Linked DNA regions of Homo sapiens: region 2 is linked to region 1. Evidence: fine-mapped QTL for protein levels in blood plasma. A gene starts in region 1. The other region holds a variant in brackets. All regions are shown on one strand. Distances are between the middles of the regions.

Region 1 (12,106 bases):
TCCTGCTCTCTCTGCAGGTTGTCGGTTCAATGGGGACATGGGCAGGGTGGAGCACTAGGAGGGGCTGGGTTTGCATTCCCAAATGGCATGTCTCCAAATCCCTATTGGGATTTCTTCCAAATATTCCTCCTATTTGGAGCACCTTTCCCGAATAAGGCATGAAGGCTGCATGATATTGGCCAAGTCCCTAGCCTTCTCTGCCAGTCGGCCCCCAGAGATGGTGTAAGAAGATCTGAGTGTGCTGCTCTTCAATCCTGGAGTTGAAAGTCATCCACCAGTCTTTCCAAGAGGGGTTGAAGAAAAGGAGGAAGGGTGATTGATGATGAGGGAGGAGAAAAAGAAGAGCCCAGGAGTACCATGGAGAAGGAGAAGAGAAGATGAGGAAAGCCTACTCTCCCCTCCAAGTTCTGAGGGGCTGTCTCCTCCTTCCTTCCCTCCTCCATGCCCTCAGCTTGCAGGAGCAGCCAATGGTATGGCCTTTAACAAGGGGCCCCTCCTCAGCATCTGATGCTCTCTCCTCAGGGGGACCTTACCACCCCTCAGAGTGCTGCTTCACCTACACTACCTACAAGATCCCGCGTCAGCGGATTATGGATTACTATGAGACCAACAGCCAGTGCTCCAAGCCCGGAATTGTGTAGGTGGTACACACACATCACACTGGGGGGAGAGGGAGCCAGCAGGGCCTCCTGGAGGGAAGCAGGGAGTGGTGGTGGAATGGGGACCCCCAGCGTACCTCCCAGGTGTGACTACATGGGGAGAGGCAGCTGAGGGGCAATCTGAGCGCTTTCTGGCTGGAGCCTGCAGGAGCCATGGGGAAACTGACCCCATGGATGGGGAGATGACAGAGAAGGGAGAAGAAGGCAAGAGGGCACTTCCTCAGGGGGACACAGAGACTAGATGGGTCTAGGGGTCCTAGGAACCGAAGAGTATGTCTCAGAGAGGAGACTGGCTCTAAGCTGCCTCTGTGGAAGAAAGGAAAAGCAGTATAGGTCAGGTGGGGAATTTAGGAGGGAGGGAAGATGGGCTGTCTCTTCCGGCCACTGGGCCCCTCGGTTTGTGATCCTTCTCCCTCTTGCTCCACAGCTTCATCACCAAAAGGGGCCATTCCGTCTGTACCAACCCCAGTGACAAGTGGGTCCAGGACTATATCAAGGACATGAAGGAGAACTGAGTGACCCAGAAGGGGTGGCGAAGGCACAGCTCAGAGACATAAAGAGAAGATGCCAAGGCCCCCTCCTCCACCCACCGCTAACTCTCAGCCCCAGTCACCCTCTTGGAGCTTCCCTGCTTTGAATTAAAGACCACTCATGCTCTTCCCTGGCCTCATTCCTTTCTACGGGATTTACTCATTGGCCATGCACTGAGGACACCAGGGTGTGGCACCCTCGGCATCAAGCCTCGCTCTGCAGAAGTTTTGCTGGAGCCTGGTACAAAAAATAGGTCAGGCCTGCAATGCAGGTAGTGAGAAGCAGAAAGTGAGAAAGAAAAGCAGTGTAAAGACCGTCTCCTCCTCAGCAACAACAGTAGCAGACCCCGTTTTCTTAATGCTTTCTATACTCCAAGCACTCTGCTAGGCAGTCTGTATGCATTATCTTATTTAAGCTTCATGACAAGTGTAAAAGCTACAAATCATCATTTGATTTTTTAGGTAACACTTCATAAAGGGCTCTCTATAGCAGTCAAACTCCATAGTCCTTTTTTCTGTGCTGTTTTCAAGGCCTTTCTTCACTGCTGTCTGGAATAGGAATGATGCATGAAGACATTTTATCCAACCCCTCCCCTTCGCTTACACACATCAGATTATACTATATTGTTTTACTAACTTTTTTATCCCCTAGAAGGCTTAGCAGAAAGCCTAGCCCATACCAGGTGTTCAGGAAATGGATGGATGGATGGATGGATGAAGGAAGGGAAGAATGTGTGGATGGAAGGATGAAGGGAAGGAGGAATGGATGGAGGGAGGGAAGCAGGGAGGGATGAAGGGAGGGAGGAAGGGAGGAAGGGAGGGAGGAAGGGAGGGAGGGATGGATGGATGGATGGAGAGAAAGAGGGAGGGAGGGATAGAGGGACAGATGGAATAAGACAGAAATCAAGAGGAGGACTATGCTCCAAGAATAAGCTCTCAAACCTATCTTCAGGGCCCAAGGAGGAGCTCTGTGTACTTGGAATAAGAGCTTGCCCAGAGTAGGGATTATGACCACCCTTTCCTGGCCTCCAGCCTTCCACAGATAAGGAAGGGCTTGTGGGCCACATTAAGGGCCATATGGGGGCCTGCATGCCAAAGTCACAACCAGGCTTCTCAGGCCTTGTCACCTCCATAAACAGAGGTCAAGAGGATGCCCCACATACGTACCCTCCCTGCCCTCACAAAAAGCCACAGCTTCACCACCAGGTGAAGCCTTGAACCCACCAGGAGTAACTGCATTATACGGTTTACCTATCTATGAGCAGTCATGCCAAGCAGAAAGCCCCATAAGGATCTGCACAGTCCCTGTTTCTGCCCCTGCCTCCCACTGCCCTCAACACCTGAAACACATCACCTATGCCTCTAAAGCTTGCTGTCCATCAACAGCAAAATCCCTTATATCTTTGATCTCTTCTCTAAATGCAGCTTTCAACATGGAAAAGGGTCCTGAGGCACCTGAAGAGAGAGGAAGCTGTGGGACAGGTCCAGCCAGAGCCCAGGCCAGAGGGGCAGAAGCTGGAGTCCTGGAGCACAGACGCAGGTTGTCAGGTGCACAGAGTTGGAGGGTCCCCTGCTGGTCATGGTTGGCCATGGGGGCACCCAGGAGGGATCAGCGAGCTGGCTACACCTAAAAATCAGTCCAAAGTCCGAGGTCCAAAGAGATAAATAAAAACATTGACAAATAAGTCAAACGGTCCAGCAACAAATGGGGACCCAAGGATCAGGCACATTGTTTTTTTTTTTTTTTGGAGTATTAGCATACACTGTGACAGGAAAGAGTGTGAGCTCAATCATGTGGCCTTGGACTGGGAGAGGGCATTTCCTTCTCAGAGGCAACTAAGCCCTACCTTTGCCTCAGTCTGGGCTCTGTAATCCTGCTTTGTGCTCATCTCCCCAAGACTGATCACCTGGGGGAAGCTGGGGTGGTTCAACCCTGCCTGCCCTTCCCCAACATACAGATGGTGGCAGGTAACATGGTGAAATCAAACAGATCTGGTTTTTCATCCGCCTATCCACCCAGGTGACCTTGGACAATTTATTTAGCCTCTAGGCCTCAGTAGTCCCAGGGAAGTAATAATCGCTATTCACTATTTTAAGGATTATATAAGATAGGGCATGTAAGGTAGCTGACACACATTCGCCCATTTCTTCACGTGAATTCAGATTCTACTGAATTCAGCTCTGCACCAAGTCCCATCCTCTGCTGCCCTCTGTTTCAGCAAACACTGAGGCCTGTTGTTTCTCCTCCTCTACCGGCTCTGATGCGGTCAAGGTCCAGAGAGCTGAGTAGTTGGCAAGCGGACCACCAGCAACAGACAACATCTTCATTCGGCTCTCCCTGAAGCTGTACTGCCTCGCTGAGAGGATGAAGGTCTCCGAGGCTGCCCTGTCTCTCCTTGTCCTCATCCTTATCATTACTTCGGCTTCTCGCAGCCAGCCAAGTGAGTCCACTTGTCTCTGTAGGGCAGGAACGAGAAAGGGGGATGGAGCAGCTGGCAGGGAGGTAGTGCCAAGGGCGCTGTCGGGTCTCTGGCCTCATAAGACCCTGTGGGCTCTCCCCACCTTCATGCATAGCTTCTGACCTCCAATTCTCCCCTTTGTAAGTAGAGCTGGGGTTGGTCCGGATCTTTCTGGGGTAAGTAGTTCCAGGAAACTGGGTCACCATTTCCTCAGGAGTCCCAAGCGTGGTGAGCAGGAATGATCATTCAGGAGGAGAGGCCAAGAAAGCAGCAGAAAATGCAACAAGAAGTGCATGCAATGAAAGGGAGGGGGAGGCACGCGGATGAGAAAGAAAAGTGGCAGGTGCCCTGGAAGAATGAGTGGCGAGAGGAAGGAAGGTTCAAACAATCATGTGGGTCTAAGTCCAGGAATTGGGAGTCTGAACCGAGAGAGCCCTTCCTCAACATGGCTGGCACAGGTTGCTGGGACTATCAGACAACCAAAATGAGTCCCAGTGGAATGGCTGCTTGGGAATCTATGGTCCCCTTCTCCATCCCCCAGCCTATGACTAAATAAAATCTGCAGAAAAGAGGAAAGGGGTTGAAAGGTTTTGGAGCTGTGGGGAAAGGGAGAATTGGGGCCTATGGAGGAGGGGGTTTGTTTTGCCCCTCCGTATCTCCTCCCTCTATCATTGTTTACGAGGACCTGGTGACGGGGGTGGGGAGGACAAAGACGTGTACCTGCCCTAGGCTGCCCCAGCCATTCTTTTCGCTTTTGTTTTTTTGTTTGTTTGCTTGTTGTGTTTTGTTTTGTTTTGTTTTGTTTGTGATGGAGTTTCGCTCTTGTTGCCCAGGTTGGAGCGCAGTGTCGCGATCTCGGCTCACCACAACCTCCGCCTCCCGAGTTCAAGTGATTCTCCTGCCTCAGCCTCCTGAGTAGCTGGGATCACAGGCACACACCACCACGCCCAGCTAATTTTTGTATTTTTAGTAGAGACGGGGTTTCACCATGTTGGTCAGGCTGGTCTCAAACTCCTGACCTCGTGATCTGCCCACCTCGGCCTCCCAAAGTGCTAGGATTACAGGTATGAGCCACCATGCCTGGCCTCTTTTCTCTCTTAAGGTCACCCTGGCATGTAGTCTGGCCTGACTCTGCCTGTGTAAACACAAAGGAGCAAGGGTCAAGTGCACCATGTAATCTGCCCACATACTCTCAGGATGACCCTGGTCTTTGTAAACTTTGCTTTGAGAACCAGTGATATGAGCATCACTTACAGAGGGACTGTGTGGGAGGGGGGAACAGTGCTCTTTGGGAGAGTCAATCAGGCCAGTGCAGTGGGTTCAGGCTTCAAGAAAGAGAAAATGGCCCACCCAAAGCATGGATCAGCAAGATGGTGCTCTCAAGATGTCCCAAGCTTTGCCACTCACTGGAGGCAAAGGGGTCAAGCTACAAAAAGATTTGCACTCTGAAGGTTTGGGGGCTGGGAGAGATCTCTGGACTGACCTCTTGTGTAGTATCCCCAATTGATGGGTAGTCAGGACAGCTCAAAGGAAACACAGTGACAATAACCAATCAAGTCCAGTATCCTGCATACATCAAAGAGATGGGGGGAAGCGCCATTTCCAAGGCAAGAAGAGCAGTCATTACTACCATTGGCTCTTAATTATAATAAGCACTGATTGAGCCTTTCTGTGTGCCAGGCTCTGAGTTAAGGGCTTTCCAATCATTTTCTCACCGAATTCTAACCATGATCCTAGGATACAAGTAAGTATCATTTACCCCCACTTAATAGATGAGGAAACTGAAACCTAGGGAGATTAAGAAATTTGCCCATGATTCAAGTCAAAATTCAAATCAAGTCAAAATTCCAACCCAAGCTGTCTGACCCCAAAGCCTAAATCATATACTTTTTCCTCCTGCTCTAACTTCTGTCTCTAAAGGCTCTACTCTCTCACCCTTCCCCCTAACCTCCGCCTCTCCAATACCTCTAAGATAGAGTCCAAATTCCTCAGTAGCTCAGCAGGTATGTGACCAGACCCTCCTCCTCTCTCCAGTTTCATCTCTGCCCATTCATTTCTTCCTACCTTGCATGCCAGCCACCCAAACTGCCCAGCACTCCCAAGACACACTGAGCTTCCCCTACCTTCAGGCTTTCCTGCATTTCTTTCTTCCAGATTCTACAAGTCCTTTGTGTGTCTAAATCCTTTTTTTTTTTTCTTTTGAGATGGAGTCACTCTTTCGCCCAGGCTGGGGTGCAGTGGCGCAATCTTGGCTCATTGCAACCTCTGACTCCCGGGTTTAAGTGATTCTCCTGCCTCAGCCTCCCGAATAGCTGGGATTACAGGCATGTGCCACCATGCCTGGCTAATTTTTGTTAGTAGAGACGGGGTTTCACCATGTTGGCCAGGCTGGTCTCAAACTTCTGACCTCAGGTGATCCGCCCGCCTCGGCCTCCCAAAGTGCTGGGATTACAGGCATGAGCCACCACACCCAGCCGTGTGTCTAAATCCTACTCATCCTTTACGAATCAATGCAGGCCTCACTTGCTTTGAGACTTCTTCCTCAACCACCAAGGATGGGTTAGGGGCCCTTCATTCTGTTCCCATAGCACCTTATGCCAAAGTCTGTTCTATCCTGGACCACATTCTGTGGTAGTGTTTGTTTAACTTTTCAATTTCTCTTTCAACCCTGACTAGTCTGTAAGTTACTTAAGGGTAGTGACTGTATCTTCCTCATGTTTTTACCCCCATAGAGCCCAGCATATAATACTAGCTCAACACATGTTTGCCCGATCAAGTCACCAATAAACAAAAGAATGAGCCAGCTTCCTCCCGGTTCCTTGGCAAGTGTGAATAACTAAGTCATTTGTAGTTGACACTCAGCTCAGAGGCTGAGGGTTCTAAATGTATGTCCCCCAAAGGGATTCATCTTATGCACTTCATTACCAGTCAAGCTATCATTGGTCTCCTCTAACAGACGGCTTTGCTATCAGAGGAGTGAAACACAAATGGTGGGAGACAGAGGTGGGCAGCTGTGGTCTCCCCTCTGCTTCCCTGGCTCAGCTTGCAATGTGATTCCTTCAGAAGTTCCTGAGTGGGTGAACACCCCATCCACCTGCTGCCTGAAGTATTATGAGAAAGTGTTGCCAAGGAGACTAGTGGTGGGATACAGAAAGGCCCTCAACTGTCACCTGCCAGCAATCATGTAAGCACGTCCTTTTAGATATTTCTGTGGAGAGGGACAGGGAGCCCAGGGGCAGGAATGAGATACATGGGATCAAGAGGTCTCCATGCTAGAAGCAGTGGAGCAGTGGCTAAGGGTTTGGCCTTTGGCTCTCAGGGGCCTGGGATTAATTCCTAATTTTGCCACTTTTAGCTATGTGGTTCATTATGAAACCCAAGCTTGAGGGTCTAGGCTGAGTGGAGAAGGGACTGAGAGAAGGGATGGTAAGGTTCTGAGGCCAGAGAGAGAGGCTGTCTGAGGGAACCCAGCCAGGACAGGCCCAGGGAAGCTTTAAAGAACATAAGGTGAGCTCCATGTGAACCAGAGGTGGGGGTGGGCACCGGACTCCTGCCCGAGTCTGCAGCCCATGACGGTCTAATTCTGCCTCTGCAGCTTCGTCACCAAGAGGAACCGAGAAGTCTGCACCAACCCCAATGACGACTGGGTCCAAGAGTACATCAAGGATCCCAACCTACCTTTGCTGCCTACCAGGAACTTGTCCACGGTTAAAATTATTACAGCAAAGAATGGTCAACCCCAGCTCCTCAACTCCCAGTGATGACCAGGCTTTAGTGGAAGCCCTTGTTTACAGAAGAGAGGGGTAAACCTATGAAAACAGGGGAAGCCTTATTAGGCTGAAACTAGCCAGTCACATTGAGAGAAGCAGAACAATGATCAAAATAAAGGAGAAGTATTTCGAATATTTTCTCAATCTTAGGAGGAAATACCAAAGTTAAGGGACGTGGGCAGAGGTACGCTCTTTTATTTTTATATTTATATTTTTATTTTTTTGAGATAGGGTCTTACTCTGTCACCCAGGCTGGAGTGCAGTGGTGTGATCTTGGCTCACTTGATCTTGGCTCACTGTAACCTCCACCTCCCAGGCTCAAGTGATCCTCCCACCCCAGCCTCCCGAGTAGCTGGGACTACAGGCTTGCGCCACCACACCTGGCTAATTTTTGTATTTTTGGTAGAGACGGGATTCTACCATGTTGCCCAGGCTGGTCTCAAACTCGTGTGCCCAAGCAATCCACCTGCCTCAGCCTTCCAAAAGTGCTGGGATTACAGGCGTGAGCCACCACATCCGGCCAGTGCACTCTTAATACACAGAAAAATATATTTCACATCCTTCTCCTGCTCTCTTTCAATTCCTCACTTCACACCAGTACACAAGCCATTCTAAATACTTAGCCAGTTTCCAGCCTTCCAGATGATCTTTGCCCTCTGGGTCTTGACCCATTAAGAGCCCCATAGAACTCTTGATTTTTCCTGTCCATCTTTATGGATTTTTCTGGATCTATATTTTCTTCAATTATTCTTTCATTTTATAATGCAACTTTTTCATAGGAAGTCCGGATGGGAATATTCACATTAATCATTTTTGCAGAGACTTTGCTAGATCCTCTCATATTTTGTCTTCCTCAGGGTGGCAGGGGTACAGAGAGTGCCTGATTGGAAAAAAAAAAAAAAGAGAGAGAGAGAGAAGAAGAAGAAGAAGAGACACAAATCTCTACCTCCCATGTTAAGCTTTGCAGGACAGGGAAAGAAAGGGTATGAGACACGGCTAGGGGTAAACTCTTAGTCCAAAACCCAAACATGCAATAAATAAAACTCCCTTATTTGACAGCTTGATTCCTAACCTCCTGCTTTTTTTTCTGCTAGGGTGAAAGAAGCTTAATCTCAGTTTTTTTCAGGGGCTTCTCCACATTTCTTGAGACTTTTGTCAAGGTTGGGGGCCATTTATATTCAATCTTCCCCTCTGTCTCCAGCTTAACAGCAGACAGCTGACTCAGCTCGCTTGGATTCAACATTCTCCCAAAACGCTGTTGTGAAGACAAAACAAAAGCCAGGTAATTAAGACCGGATGGTTAAGACAGGTAATTAAGACCGGATGGTTAAGAGAAACAAATAAATGCAGTGAAGTGTCAAGCTGAAAACGGGCCAATGAATTGGATTCTGGTAAACTGACTCATAACTGCCCCCCAGTGGCCATGTTGTTAAAACCCGAGCCTCCTCCCTTGGCCGGCGCGGTGGCTCACGCCTGTAATCCCAGCACTTTGGGAGGCCGAGGGGGGCAGATCACGAGCTCAGGAGATCGAGCCCATCCTGGCTAACACGGTGAAACCCTGTCTCTACTAAAAATACAAAAAAATTAGCCGGGCGTGGTGGCGGGCGCCTGTAGTCCCAGCTACTCGGGAGGCTGAGGCAGGAGAATGGCATGAACCCAGGAGGCGGAGCTTGCAGTGAGCCGAGTTCGTGCCACTGCACTCCAGCCTGGGCGACAGAGAGAGACTCTTGTCTCAAAAAAAAAAAAAAAAAAAAAACGAGCTGCCTCCCCAGCCCAAGCTCATCTTCCCAGGATGGCCATCTCATCTAGCTGGCCAATCAGACTCTCAGAGAGATTTGAAATTTGGACCTGAGAAACTCAGTCTGGTTGCTGCTAGAGCAGAAGTGAGTTTCTGGCAGTGTCCCAAGGAAAGAGGTCTATGAACTTCTGTCCTGAGGTCCCTGGAACTGCCTCACTTCCTGCCCCAGCTCCAGGCTGGGAGCTTCAGCTGGTCTTTCAGTTCCATGAGATGTCCCAGCATCTTTCCTTTAAAAAAATTTCTAGGCCAGGCGCGATGGCTCACACTTGTAATCCCAGTTCTTTGGGAGGCCAAGGCGGGCAGATCACTTGAGGCCAGGAGTCTTGAGACCAGCCTGGACAACATGGCCCATCTCTACTAAAAATACAAAAATTAGCTGAGCATGGTGGTGGTCGCCTGTAATCCCAACCACTCAGATGGCTGAGGCATGAGAATCGCTTGAACCCAGGAGGCAGAGGTTGCAGTGAGCTGAGATCATGCCACTACACTCCAGCCTGGGCAACAGAGCGAGACTCCATCTCAATTTAAAAAAAAAATTCCTAAAGGGCCATGGTGGCAATTTAGCACCTCAGGAATAACTTATTGGTTTAGGTCAGTTCTTGGCGGGGGATGATGGATGTATGTGTGTTAAAATAGACATAACAGGGGCTGGGCAAGGTGGCTAACGCCTGTAATCCCAGCACTTCCAGAGTCTGAGGTGGGCGGATCACTTGAGGCCAGGAGTTCGAGACCAGCCTGGGCAGCATGGCGAAACCCCACTTCTACCAAAAATACAAAAAAAAAAAAAAAATTAGCCGAGCATGGTGGCCTGGGCCTATGGTCCCAGCTGCTCAGGAGGCTGAGGCAGGAGGATCCCTTGAGCTGGGGAGTCAGCTGAAATCGTGCCACTGCACTCCAGCCTGGGTGACAGAATGAGACCCTGTCTCAAAAAACATGTGTGTGTGTGTGTGTGTGTGTGTGTGTGTGTGTGTACACACATAACAAGGCCATGCACAGTGGCTTATGCCTATAAACCCAGCACTTTGGGAGGCTGAAGCAGGAGGATCATTTGAGTCCAGGAATTTGAGATCAGCCTGGGCGGTATGGTGAGATCTTACATATTTTTTAATCTCTACAAAAAAAAAACAATTAACTGGGCACGGTGGTGTGTGCCTGTGGTCACAGGTACTCAGAAGGCTGAGGTAGGAGGATTGCTTGAGCCCAGGAGGTTGAGACTGCACTGCAGTGAGCCATAATATCACCACTGCACTCCAGGCTGGATGACAGAGCAAGACTCTGCCTAAAAATACATATATATATATAGGTGTGTGTGTGTGTGTGTATGTGTGTATGTGTGTGTGTATATATATATATATATATATAGACAAAATTTACCATTCTAAACATTTTTATGTGTACAATCCTACATTCACTTTGTTAGGCAAACATCACCACTATCCATCTCCAGACTTTTCTCATTGTCCCAACCTGAGACTCTGTACCCATTAAATGCTAACTCACCATTCTCTCCTCCCCCAGCCTCTGGTAACCACTATTCTTCTTTCTGTCACTATGAATTTGACAGCTCTAGGTATTTCATGTAAGGGGAATCACATAGCATTTGTCCTTTTGTGACTAGCTTATTTCACCAGCATAGTGTCGTCAAGGTTCATCCAAGTTGTAGCATGCTTCAGAACGTTATTCCTGTTAGTCATTAGGCTAACATTCCATTGTATGTATCTGCCACATTTCGTTTATCCAGCTAATCTGCTGATGGACGTGTGGGTATCTCTCTTTTCTTGCTAGCCAGAGTTTGCAGATCTTGGTTTCTGTCACTTGCACCAAAAGCACCTGAACTTGGGCAACAACCCATCAATCACCCGGGCATTGACTCAGAGGAGCCCCATGTGCTTGCTGCTCTTGCTCCTCCACAGAGGCAGTGCTACCTGCTTTGGTCCCTCCCTGGACTGTGAGTCCCTGCTCCTTGATCCAGGAATTTCTCTCCACCCTCCTTGCTATCAGGGGTTACAGCTAAATATGATCAAACTCCTTCCTCCAGGAGCTCCCAGCCTGGGGATGACAGAATCAATAACATACAATGTAGTCAGGCCCAGACCTTTGCTTGCAGAGGCCAAAGCAAACATGGGGGTGGGAGTGAGGCCGGCAGGGCCTAGGTTGACAGAAAAGTCAGGACAACATCAGATGCGGCAAGAAGTTTCAAAGTCCTTAGCCAGCACCAGGGTCAAAGCCAGGGAGTCAGAGTTCAAAGGCCTAAAAAACAGGACAAGGCTAAAAACAGGAAGCTCAGGGCCGGGGTTCTGGCAAGCTGGAACAGAATGTCGTTGTCTTGTGTTTTGTTTTGTTTTGTTTTTAAATTCAGGAGCACTGAGGTGTCAGTCTGAAAACCTGAGTAATCGAGAGTCTATATACACAAAGTCAAATCCCCACCCTAGCACATAATAAAAAGCCTGCCAGAAACTTCTGATGGTTCAGAACTGGAAGAGCTTTTCTCACGTGCATTCAGTTGCTTTTCAAGAAGGATATTCCCAGTCTTTTCAAGGCAGGCAGATAGATGGCTGACCTTAAACACACACAAATACAGAAAGGACTTCGGTCATTCTGATATACAGAGTTTTCCAGCTGTGGTCATCCTAAAGCAAATAAACCTTTTCTTGAACAACTTGTATGACTGACCTTTTGCCTTGTAGAATACAGGTGGCTGGGTACATGGGGGAACCAACTGGAACAGGAAGGGAAGAAAATGAGAGAACAACTCTGGATACTACAAAGAGCATTTTACTGGGAGTCACAGAGGACGGCTCGCATGTCCTCTTTCTACACAGCCGTCTTAGACACCATGAATCCTTGAAGCAGATGACCAGATGTCCTGCGGCTGGTTTCAGCAGGCCTG
Region 2 (12,161 bases), 650 kb after region 1:
ATACACAAATATTGATAGCCAAACTGATCAAGCAGAAGAAAGGATACGAGAGATTGAAGATCAACTTAATGAAATAAAGCATGAAGACAAGATTAGAGAAAAAAGAATAAAAAGGAATGAACAAAGCCTCCAAGAAATATGGGACGATGTGAAAAGGCCAAACCTACATTTGATTGGTGTACCTGAAACTGACAGGGAGAATGGAACCAAGTTGGAAAACACACTTCAGGTTATTATCCAGGAGGACTTCCCCAACCTAACAAGACAGGCCAACATTCAAATTCAGGAAATAGTACACCACAAAGATGCTCCTTGAGAAGAGCAACCCTAAGACACATAATTATCAGATCCCCCAAGGTGGAAATGAAGAAAAAAATGTTAAGGGCAGCCAGAGAGAAAGGTCGGGTTACCCACAAAGGGAAGCCCATCAGACTAACAGTGAATCTCTCTGCAGAAATCCTACAAGTCAGAAGAGAGTGGGCGCCAATATTCAACATTCTTAAAGCAAAGAATTTTCAACCCAGAATTTCATATTCAGCCAAACTAAGTTTCATAAGCAAAGGAGAAATAAAATCCTTTACAGACAAGCAAATGCTGAGAGATTTTATCACCACCAGGCCTGCCTTACAAGAGCTCCTGAAGGAAGCACTAAATATGGAAAGGAACAACCAGTACCAGTTACTGCAAAAACATATCAAATTATAAAGTCCATCGACACTCTGAAGAAACTGCATCAACTAATGGGCAAAATAACCAGCTAGCATCATAATGACAGGATCAAATTCACAGCTAACAATATTAACCTTAAATGTATATGGGCTAAATACCCCAATTAAAAGACACAGGCTGGCAAATTGGATAGAGTCAAGACCCATTGGTGTGCTATATTCAAGAGACCCATCTCTCGTGCAAAGACACACATAGGTTCAAAATAAAGGGATGGAGGAATATTTACCAAGAAAATGGAAAGCAAAAAAAAAAAAAAAAAAAGAGCAGGGGTTGCAATCCTAGTCTCTGATAAAACAGACTTTAAACCAACAAAAATCAAAAAGGACAAAGAGGGGCATTACATAATGGTAAAGGGATCAATGCAACAAGAAGAGCTAACTCTCCTAAATATATATGCACCCAATACAGGAGCACCCAGATTCATAAAGCAAGTTCTTAGAAACCTACAAAGAAACTTAGACTCCCACAGAATAATAGTGGGAAACTTTAACACCCCACTGTCACTGTTAGACAGATCAATGAGACAGAAAATTACGAGAATATTCAGGACTTGAACTCACCTCTGAACCAAGAGAACCTAATAGACATCTACAGAAATCTCCACCCCAAACCAGCAGAATATACATTCTTCTCAACACCACATCACACTTATTCCAAAACTGACCACATATTTGGAAGTAAAACACTCCTCAGCAAATGCAAAAGAATGAAAATCATAACAATTAGTCTCTCACAACACAGTGCAATCAAACTAGAACTCAGGATTAAGAAACTCATTCAAAACCGCATAACTACAAGGACAGTGAACAACCTGCTCCTGAATGACTACTGGGTAAATAACAAAATTAAGGCAGAGATCAAGAAGTCCTTTGAAACCAATGAGAACAAAGACACAATGTACCAGAATCTCTGGGACACAGCTAAAACAGTGTTTAGAGGGAAATTTATAGCACTAAATGCTCACAGGAGGAAGCGGGAAAGATATGAAATAGACACCCTAACATCACAATTAAAAGAACTAAGATCAGAGTAGAAATTTAGAGAAGTGAGAGCAAACAAATTCAAAAGCTAGCAGAAGACAAGAAATAACTAAGAGCAGAGTAAAACTGAGGGAGATAGAGACATAAAAAAACCCTTCAAAAAGTCAATTATTCCAGGTGCTGGTTTTTTGAAAAAATTAACAAAATAGATAGATGGCTAGCCAGACTAATAAAGAAGAAAAGAGAGAAGAATCAAAACACAATAAAAAATGATAAAGGGGATATCACCACTGATCCCACAGAAATACAAATTACCATCTGAGAATACTATAAACACCTCTATGCAAATAAACTCAAAAATCTAGAAGAAATGGATAAATTCCTGGACACATACACCCTCCCAAGATTAAACCAAGAAGAAGTCAAATCCCTGAATAGACCAATAACAAGTACTGAAATTGAGGCAGTAATTAATAGTCTACCAATAAAAAAAAAAAAGCCCAGGACCAGACGGATTTACAGCCGAATTCCACCAGAGGTACAAAGAGGAGCTGGTGCCATTACTTCTGAAACTATTACAAACAAAACAGAAAGAAGGAATCCTCCTTAACTCATTTTATGAGGCCAGCATCATCCTGATACCAAAACCCGGCAGAGACACAACAAAAAAAGAAAATGTCAGGCCAATATCCCTGATGAACATTGAGGCTAAAATCCTCAATAAGATACTGGCAAACCAAATCCAGCAGCACATCAAAAAGCTTAACCACCACGATCAAGTCAGCTTTATACCTGGGATGCAAGGCTGGTTCAACATACACAAATCAATAATCGTAATCCATCACATAAACAGAATCAATGACAAAAACCACATGATTATCTCAAGAGATGCAGAAAAAGCCTTCGTTAAAACCCAACACCCCTTCATGCTAAAAACTCTCAATAAACTAGGTATTGATGGAACATATCTCAAAATAATAAGAGTTATTTATGACAAACCCACAGCCAATGTCATACTGAATGGGCAAAAGCTGGAAGCATTCCCTTTGAAAACCAGCACAAGACAAGGATGCTCTCTCACCACCCCTATTCAACATAGTGTTGGAAGTTCCGGCCAGGGCAATCATGCAAAAGAAATAAAGCGTATTCAAATAGGAAGAGAGGGAGTCAAACTGTTTCTGTTTGCAGATGACATAATTGTATATTTCAAAAAACCCATTGTCTCAGCCCAAAATATCCCTAAGCTGAAAAGCAAATTCAGCAAAGTCTCAGGACACAAAATCAATATGCAGAAATCACAAGCATTTCTACACACTGACAACAGGCAAACAGAGAGCAAAATCATGAGTGAACTTCCAATCACAACTGCTACAAAGAGAATAAAATACCTAGGGATATAACTTACAAGGGATGTGAAGGACCTCTTCAAGGAGAACTACAAACCACTGCTCAAGGAAATAAGAGAGGACACAAATGAATGGAAAAACATTCCATGCTCATGGATAGGAAGAATCAATATCATGAAAACGGCCATCCTGCCCAAAGTAATTTATAGTTTCAATGCTATCCCCATCAAGCTACTGTTGACTTTCTTCACAGAATTAGAAAAAACTACTTTAAATTTCATATGGAACCAAAAAAGAGCCCGTATAGCCAAGACAATCTTAAGCAAAAAGAACAAAACTGGAGGCATCAAGCTGCCCAACTTCAAACTATACTACAATTGCTACAGTAAGCAAAACAGCATGGTACTGCTACCAAAACAGATATATAGACCAATGGAACAGAACAGAGGCCTCAGAAATAATGTCACACATCTACAACCATCTGATCTTTGACAAATCTGACAAAAACAAGCAATGGGGAAAGGATTCCCTCTTTAATAAATGGTGTTGAGAAAACTGGCTAGCCATAAGCAGAAAACTGAAACTGGACCCCTTCCTTACACCTTATACAAAAAGTAACTCAAGATGGATTAAAGACTTAAACCCAATACCTAAAACCATAAAAACCCTGGAAGAAGTCCTAGGCAATATCATTCAGGACACAGGCATGGGCAAAGACTTCATGACTAAATCACCAAAAGCAATGGCAACAAAAGCGAAAATTGACAAATGAGATCTAATTAAACTAAAGAGCTTCTGCACAGCAAAAGAAACTATCATCATAGTGAACAGGCAACCTACAGAATGGGAGAAAATTTTTGCAATCTATCCATCTGACAAAGGGCTAATATCCAGAATCTACAAAAAACTTAAACAAATTTGCAAGAAAAAAACAAACGACCACATCAAAAAGTGGGCAAAGAATGTAAACAGGCACTCCTCAAAAGAAGACATTTATGCAGCTGACAAACATATGAAAAAAAGGTCATCATCACTGGGTCATTAGAGAAATGCAAATCAAAACCGCAATGTGATACCACCTCATGCCAGTTAGAATGGCGATCATTAAAAAGTCAGGAAACAACAGATGCTGGAGAGGATGTGGAGAAATAGGAACGCTTTCACACCGTTGGTGGGAGCATAAATTAGTTCAACCATTGTGGAAGACGGTGTGGCAATTCCTCAAGGATCTAGAACCAGAAATACCATTTGACCCAGCAATCCCATTACTAGGTATATACCCAAAACATTATAAATTATTCTACCATAAAGACACATGCACACGTATGTTTATTGCAGCACTGTTCACAATAGCAAAGACCTAGAACCAACCCAAATGCCATCAATGATAGCCTGGATAAAGAAAATGTGGCACATGTACACCATGGAATACTGTGCAGCCATAAAAAGGATGAGTTCATGTCCTTTGCAGGGATATGGATGAAGCTGGAAACCATCATTCTCAGCAAACTAACAGGAACAGAAAACCAAACATTACATGTTCTCACTCATAAGTGGGAGTTGAACAATGAGAACACATGGACACAGAGAGGGGAACATCACACAACGGGGCCTGTTAGGGGGTGGGGAGCTAGGGGAGGGATGTATTAGGAGAAATACCTAGTGTAGATGATGGGTTGATGGGTGCAGCAAACCACCATGGCACGTGTATACCTATGTAACAAACCTTCACATTCTGCACTTGTATCCCAGAACTTAAAGTATAATAATAAAAAAAAGCACAAAGAGGGACATTATATAATGATAAAAGGCTTTGTCCAACAGGAAACTATCACAATACTAGACATACATTCACCTAACACTGGAGGTCCCAAATTTATGAAACAATTACTAATAGATCTAAGAAATGAGATAGACAGCAACAAAGTAACACTGAGGAACTTCAATACTCCGCTGACAGCACTAGACAGGTCATTAAGACAGAAAGCCAACAAAGAAACAATGGATTTAAACTACACCCTGGAACAAATGGACTCAACATATATATACAGAACATTCCATGCAACAACTGCAGAATACACATTCTATTCAACAGCACATGGAACTTTCTCCAAGATAGACCATATGATAGCCACAAAATGAGCCTCAATAAATTTAAGAAAATTGAAATTATATCAAGCACTCTCTCAGGCCACAGTGGAATAAAACTGGAAATAAACTTCAAAAGGAACCTTCAAAACCATGGAAATTAAATAACCTGCTCTTGAATGAACATTGGGTCAAAAATGAAATCAAGATGAAAATTTAAAAAGTCTTCGAACTGAATGACAATAGTGACACAACCTATCAAAACCTCTGAGACACAGCAAAGGTGATGCTAAGAGGAAATTTCATCGTCCTAAATGCCTACATCAAAAAATCTGAAAGAGCACAGGCAATCTAAGGTCACACCTCAAGGAACAAGAGAAACAAGAACAAATCAAACCCAAACCCAGAAGAAAGGAAGGAAATAACCAAGATCAGAGCAGAACTAAATGAAATTAAAACAAAAAAATACAAAAGATAAATAAAACAAAAAGCTAGTTCTTTGAAAAGATAAATAAAATTGATATACCATTAGCAAGATTAACCAAGAAGAGAGAAAATCCAAATAAGCTCAGTAAGAAACGAAACGGAAGAGATTACAACTGACACCACAGAAATGTGAAAGATCATTCAAGGCTACTATGAACACCTTTGCATGCGTAAACTAGAAAACCTAGAAGAGATGGATAAATTCCTGGAAAGACACAACCCTCCTAGCTTAAATCAGGAAAAATTAGATGTCCTGAACAGACCAATAACAAGCAGTAAGATTGAAATGGTAATTTAAAAATTACCAACAAAAAAAAGGGTCCAGGACCAGACGGATTCACAGCAGAATTCTACCAGACATTCAAAGAAGAATTGGTAACAATCTTTTTGACACTATTCCACAAGACAGAGAAAGAGAGAACCCTTCCTAAGTCATTCTATGAACCTAGTATCTCCCTAATACCAAAACCAGGAAAGGACATAATCAAAAAGAAAACTACAGACCAATATCCATAAAGAACATTAGATGCTAAAATCCTTAACAAAATTCTAGCTAACCAAATTCAAGAACATATCAGAAAGATAATCCACCATGACCAAGTGGGTTTCATACCAGGGATGCAGGGATGGTTTAATATATGCAAGTCAATAAATGTGACACAGCTGGGTGCGATGGCTCACCCCTGTAAT[C/A]CCAGCACTTTGGGAGGCCGAGGTGGGTGGATCACCTGAGGTTGAGAGTTCGAGACCAGCCTGACCAACATGGAGAAACCTCATCTCTACTAGAAAAAAATTACAAAATTAGCCAGGCATGGTGGTACATGCCTGTAATCCCAGCTACTCGGGAGGCTGAGGCAGGAGAATCGCTTGAACCCAGGAGGCAGAGGTTGCGGTGAGCCAAGATTGGGCCATTGCACTCCAGCCTGGGCAACAAGAGCAAAACTCTGTCTAAAAAAAAAAAAGTGATACATCACATAAACAAAATTAAAAACAAAAACCATGTGATCATCTCAATAGATGCAGAAAAAGCATTTGACAAAATCCAGCATCACTTTACTATTAAAACTCTCAGCAAAATTGGCATATAAGAGATATACCTCAATATATTAAAAGCCATCTATGACAAAGTCACAGCCAACATAATACCGAGTGGGGAAAAGTTGAAAGCATTCCCTCTGAGAACTGAAACAAAACAAAGATGCCCACTCTCACCACTCCTCAACATAGTACTGGAAGTCCTAGCCAGAGCAATCAGACAAGAGAAATAAATAAAGGACATCCGAATCAATAAAGAGGGACTCAAATGTCCCTGTTTGCTGATGATATGATCATTTACCTGGGAAACCCTAAAGACTCCTCCAGAAAGCTCCTAGAACTGATAATTCAGCAAAGTTTTCAGATACAACATTAATGTACACAAATTAATAGCTCTTCTATACATCAGCAGCGACCAAGGGGAGAATCAAATCAAGAAATCAACCCCTTGTACAATAGCTGCAAACAAACAAACAAACAAAAAAAAAAAACAGTGAAAGGGCATCATTGCCTTGTTCCAGTTCTCAGGAGGAATGCTTTCAACTTTTCCCCATTCAGTATGCTGGCCATGGTATTTTATTATTCTTAATAGCTCTATTCATAATAGTCAAAACCTGGAAATAACCCAGAAGTTTTTCACTTGACAAATGGAAAAGCAGTGGTATATTTTCTTAAAAAATTTTTGTGGGTACATAGTAGGTATATATATTTATGAGGTACATGAGGCATTTTGATACAGGCATGCAATGCACAATAATCACATCATGGAAAATGGAGTAGCAATTCCTTCAAGCATTTATCATTTGTGTTACAAACAACCCAATTACACCTTTTAAGTTATTTTAAAATGTACAGTTAAATGATTATTGACTATAGTCACCCTGTTGTGCTATCAAATACTAGGACTTCTTCATTCTATTCCTTTTTTTGGACACATTCTACATCCCCACTGCCCACCAACTCCTTCAACCACACTTCCCAGCCTCTGGTAATAATCCTTCTACTCTCTATCTCTATGAGTTCAATTGTTCTGGTATTTAGATCCCACAAATAAGTGTGAACATGTGATGTTTGTCTTTCTGTGCCTGGCCTTATTTTGTTACCAAAACACCAGGGGTTTAGTCTAGGTCCTGCTGCTCCCTGCACAGAAAGCCAATGACTGAGACAATGATTATTGCCAAGGAAGAAGGCTTTAATCAGGTGGTGTAGCTGAGGGGATGGGAGATCAGTCTCAAATCCATCTCCATGACTGACTAGAACTAGGGGTTGATATAGCAGGGAAGAAATGTAACAATGTGTAAGAAAATAAGAACTAGGGAGAGGCAAGGAAGCAAACATGGTGAATGAGGGGTCCAGCATCTGGTGAGGTGATCTGGTGAGTTTCAGTTCTTTGATCCTTTTTTTTTCAGAGGCCTGAAGGTCCTGTCCTGAGGAAGGAATGCAGATAAAACAAATATAAGTTTCAAGCTTTAAGACCAGAAGGGTCAATTTCTATGTTTATCAAAAAGATCAGTCTATGAGACTATTGGGTCAGTTTCAGCCCCCACTTTCTATTTATCAATTCCTCAGACATGAGGAATCTGGTCATCAATCTTTCTGGCTGCTTCATGCTGAGGAGGGGTGTCATAGGCAGCTCCATACCATGGGTGACCACGTGGCTGCCCAAGAATCAGACGTTAATCTAATATAGACTTTTCTTCTGAAACACAATCTTTGGAAGCAGAGAAACTCTAAGCAGACAGGGGAGGGTCCCCAGTGGAAATCCCACCTTCAAGCCAGAAATATCCTTAAACCCACTGCCCAAAGTGAGAACTTCTATTCCTGTTTGCCTACTCTCTCCTGATTGGTTCTTTCTGAATAATATCTTTACCAATGGAATGTCGCCTTTTCCAAAACTACCTATGGCCTGCCCATACCCATCCTGTGCCTATAAAGACCTCAACCTCCCTCCCTCAACCAGGAGGGAGAAGAAGTGGCTGGACATTGGGGAAAGATGAATTGACTACATAGATGATGGCTGGATGTCACAGAGAGGCAACTTGACTTTGGAGGAGAGAGGCAGAGTGGTGACTTGACTTCAGGAGAGAGAAACCTGCCCTTCCCATCCCTTTGCCACCTTGCCAGCTCTTCTCTCTACTGAGAGCCACTTTCATCACTCAGTAAACTCCACCTTCACCATCCTTCATCTGTGTGACCTGACCTCATTCTTGCTTTTTTTTTTTTACTCAGATGGAGTCTTGCTCTGTCACCAGGCTGGAGTACAGTGGCGCGATCTCGGCTCACTTCAACCCCCACCTCCTGGGTTCAAGCAACTCTTCTGCCTCAGCCTCCTGAGCAGCTGGGATTACAGGTGTGTGCCACCATGCCCGGCTATTTTTTGTATTTTTTTTTTTTAGTAGAGACGGGGTTTCACCATGTTGGCCAGGCTGCTCTTGAACTCCTCACCTTGTGATCCACCCACCTTGCCCTCCCAAAGTTCTGGGATTACAGGCATGAGCCACCACGCCTGGCCAACCTCATTCTTCTTTGGCACTGGACAAAAATTGGGGACCCACCAAGTGCAGGTACCCAAAAGGGCTGTCACACTGGCCCTTTGCTCTCACTGGCAGAGGGCAGCAGCCCCATTGATGAGTCAAAGGGCCCACTGAGCTGATAACACAGTGCTATCTGTGAAAGGTGGAGCTAAGAGAGCACTGTAACATTCCCTCTGGGGCCTTGGGGTTGCAGGCACCCCTACCTGGACTCTGCCATGGGGCCTTCATGGTGTTTGCTCCTGCCAGCACCAAAGCAGCCAGCCAGTTCCTGCACTCACTTGCTTACATGCTCTCTTCCACAAGGGATGGAATGCAGTGGGTCCAAGCAAATGGAATTTGCTTCTGTCAGTGCTGAGGCAGCCAGCTGGTTCCTGCACTTGTTCAATTGAGTGCTTCCTCCTGCAAGGGGTTGAGCACAGTGGACTGAGTATACAAGGCACTCCAGTCACAAGTCCCACAAAGGCATCAAGAAAATATCCTGCATCAAAAACATGTTGTTATGAACCATATGCAATCAAATACATTGCTGTGAATTAAGAATATTTACAAATAGTTTACAAATTCTGGAGAAATTAGGCAGAGAGAAAAATATGACTCAAATTCTGTTTACAAACGTATATTTACTTAATACACTTAAAATATGTTTCAAGTTTATAAATAGCTCAAAAGAAAACAATTCTTCAGACTCCAAAAAACAAAACAAAAAGAATCAGCAATATTTCAAACAAAAAAAGCCATAAAAATTATTTCAGTCCTCCATTAGTTCTGTCAATGCAATCAACTCTCACTCTGCTTCATATTGCATTAGCAATCTTTATGAACATATCAGCCTTTCAATAAGTGCAGTGAAAGTTTTCTCTCTGATCTAATGGTACAATCTGCAAAGTTATCAGAAACCTGCATTCAAGAGTCCTTTTAATGAACTCCTCCAAAGAAACAAGACTTGGACTGTAGCTGATTATTAGTAACGTTTTTTGGAAGGATCACAGCAAGACAACATTTGTGGATGAAAAAAGTCTTAGGATAGCCGTAGTCAAAGACACAGTTGACAAGGAAATTTGGTTATTTCTGTGGCATGCAATTTAAAATAATAATCATAATTATTACTGATGATGTTACCAGTGGAGGGTGTCCAGGTTCTTGGTGTTTTGAACAAATAATTGGACAAAATGCACAAAGCAATGAAAGAAAAGCACAGATTTATTTAAATGAAACTACACTCCACAGAATGGGAGTGGGCTGAAGCAAGTGGCTCAAGAGCAGGGGTTACAGAATTTTCTGGAGTTTAAATACCCTCAAGAGGTTTCCCATTGGTTATTTGCTTTACACCCTATGTAAATGAAATAATGGCCCATAACCAGTCTGAATGGTTGTGGAAGGTGACCAATCAGAGTCTGAAGTAAAGTTACAAAGTTATACATGAAGACTTGGCCAATCAGAGGTACTTTCATTTTTCATCTGCAATGCAGAAAAGATGGGGAGAGTTACAAAGAAAGTAGCCTCTGATCCCTTTACTACTTGGGTGTGGAGAGGTGGGGTTAGGTTCTCTGCCTCCAGGCCCAGTTCTCCTGTGCATTTCCCCTCTGAGAGATGTGATCCCCATAAATCTTTATGGGAGGCAGGGGGACTGAGGGTCTTTCTTCTGTAACTGCTTCATGCTGACTTGGAGCACCGTCCCTACCTATTGAGGATTATAGAACTCTCATCCTGCTCTGTCTGGTGGGGAGAGGGTAGCTTCTTGATGGCCAGTGGTGTCTTCACCTGGAACTGACTGGAAACCTCATCACATGATCATCGAAAGCTTGATTGTCTCTAGGGAAAAGGAAATGAATTAAAGACTTAAATCTAAGACCTGAAACCATTAAAATTCTAGATGATAACACCAGAAAAACACTTCTGGACATTGGCTTAGGCAAAGAGTTTATAACCAAGAACACAAAAGCAAATGCAACAAAAACAAAAATAAATAGATCAGACCTAATTAAACTAAAACCTCCTGCACAGCAAAAGAAATAATCAGCAGAGTAAACAGACAACCCACAGAGTGGGAGAAAATATTTTCAAACTATGCATCTGACAAGACTAATATCCTGAATCTACAAGGAACTCAAACAAATCAGCAAGAAAAAAACAAAGAATCCCATCAAAAAGTGGACAAAGGATATGAATAGACAATTCTCAAAAGAGGATATACGAATGGCCAACAAACATATGAAAATATGCTCAACATCACTAATGGACAGGGAAATGCAAATTAAGACCACAACAAGATGACCTTACACCTGCAAGAATGGCCATAATTAAAAATAAAAAATTAACAGATGTTGGCATGCATGTGGTGAAAAGGAAATACTTTTACACTCCTGCTGGAAATGTAATATTATCATATTAACTGTAGGTTTGTCACATATAGCCTTTATTATGTCTAGGTATGTTTCTTCTATCCCAATTTGTTGAGAGTTTTTATCATGAAGGAATGTTGAATTTTATTGAATGCCTTTTCAGCATCTCTTGAAATGATCACATGGTTTTTGTCTTTGATCCTGTTGACATGATGTATCATGTTTATTGATTTGCATATGTTGAATTCCTGGGCTCAAGCAATCCTCCCATCTTGGCCTCCCAAAGTGCTGGGCATGAGCCACTGTGCCTGGCTTTATGTATCTTTTCAAAAAAAAAAAAAAAAAACAGGCCTGGCACGGTGGCTCACGCCTCTAATCCCAGCACTTTGGAAGGCCGAGGTGGGTGGATCACAAGGTCAGGAGATCGAGACCATCCTGGCTAACACAGTAAAACGCCATCTCTACTAAAAATACAAAAAATTAGCAAGGCGTGGTGGCGGGTGCCTGTAGTCCCAGCTTCTCAGGAGGCTGAGGCAGGAGAATGGTGTGAACCCAGGAGGTAGAGCTTGCAGTGAGCCGAGATCGCGCCACTGCACTCCAGCCTGGGTGACAGAGCGAGACTCC

Alleles and levels. Alleles are on the strand shown, and positions count from the first base shown. The strength of an association depends on the size of the effect and on how common the allele is.
As copies of A replace C in region 2, the plasma level of the protein whose gene starts at base 3,478 in region 1 goes down (moderate association).

The links. A credible set is the group of variants that fine-mapping cannot tell apart. PIP is the chance, under the fine-mapping model, that this variant and not a neighbour inherited with it causes the effect. Protein levels are from antibody-based Olink assays in UK Biobank. Linkage for the fine-mapping came from a reference panel and not from the study's own genotypes, which makes the PIPs less certain.
Region 2: its variant is the best candidate, but not a certain one, in a credible set for the plasma level of the CCL16 protein (UK Biobank, PIP 0.80).

What each region holds. Positions count from the first base shown.
Region 1 is chr17:35,972,869-35,984,974 of GRCh38, reverse strand. CCL16 (C-C motif chemokine ligand 16) reads left to right here and starts at 3,478. Exons shown (of 3, transcript NM_004590.4): 1 at 3,478-3,630; 2 at 6,712-6,832; 3 at 7,244-8,476. The coding sequence starts at 3,555. The coding sequence ends at 7,409. CCL14 (C-C motif chemokine ligand 14) reads left to right here. Exons shown (of 3, transcript NM_032963.4): 2 at 523-637; 3 at 1,087-1,687. The coding sequence ends at 1,174. It overlaps CCL15-CCL14 (CCL15-CCL14 readthrough (NMD candidate)), which reads left to right. Exons shown (of 7, transcript NR_027922.3): 6 at 523-637; 7 at 1,087-1,319. RefSeq lists a silencer at 2,668-2,963 and an enhancer at 2,668-2,963.
Region 2 is chr17:35,320,581-35,332,741 of GRCh38, reverse strand. No RefSeq gene overlaps it. Among named protein-coding and RNA genes, the nearest start is that of SLFN11, 47 kb to the left of the region's middle. The variant C/A (reference allele first, on the strand shown) is at 6,320.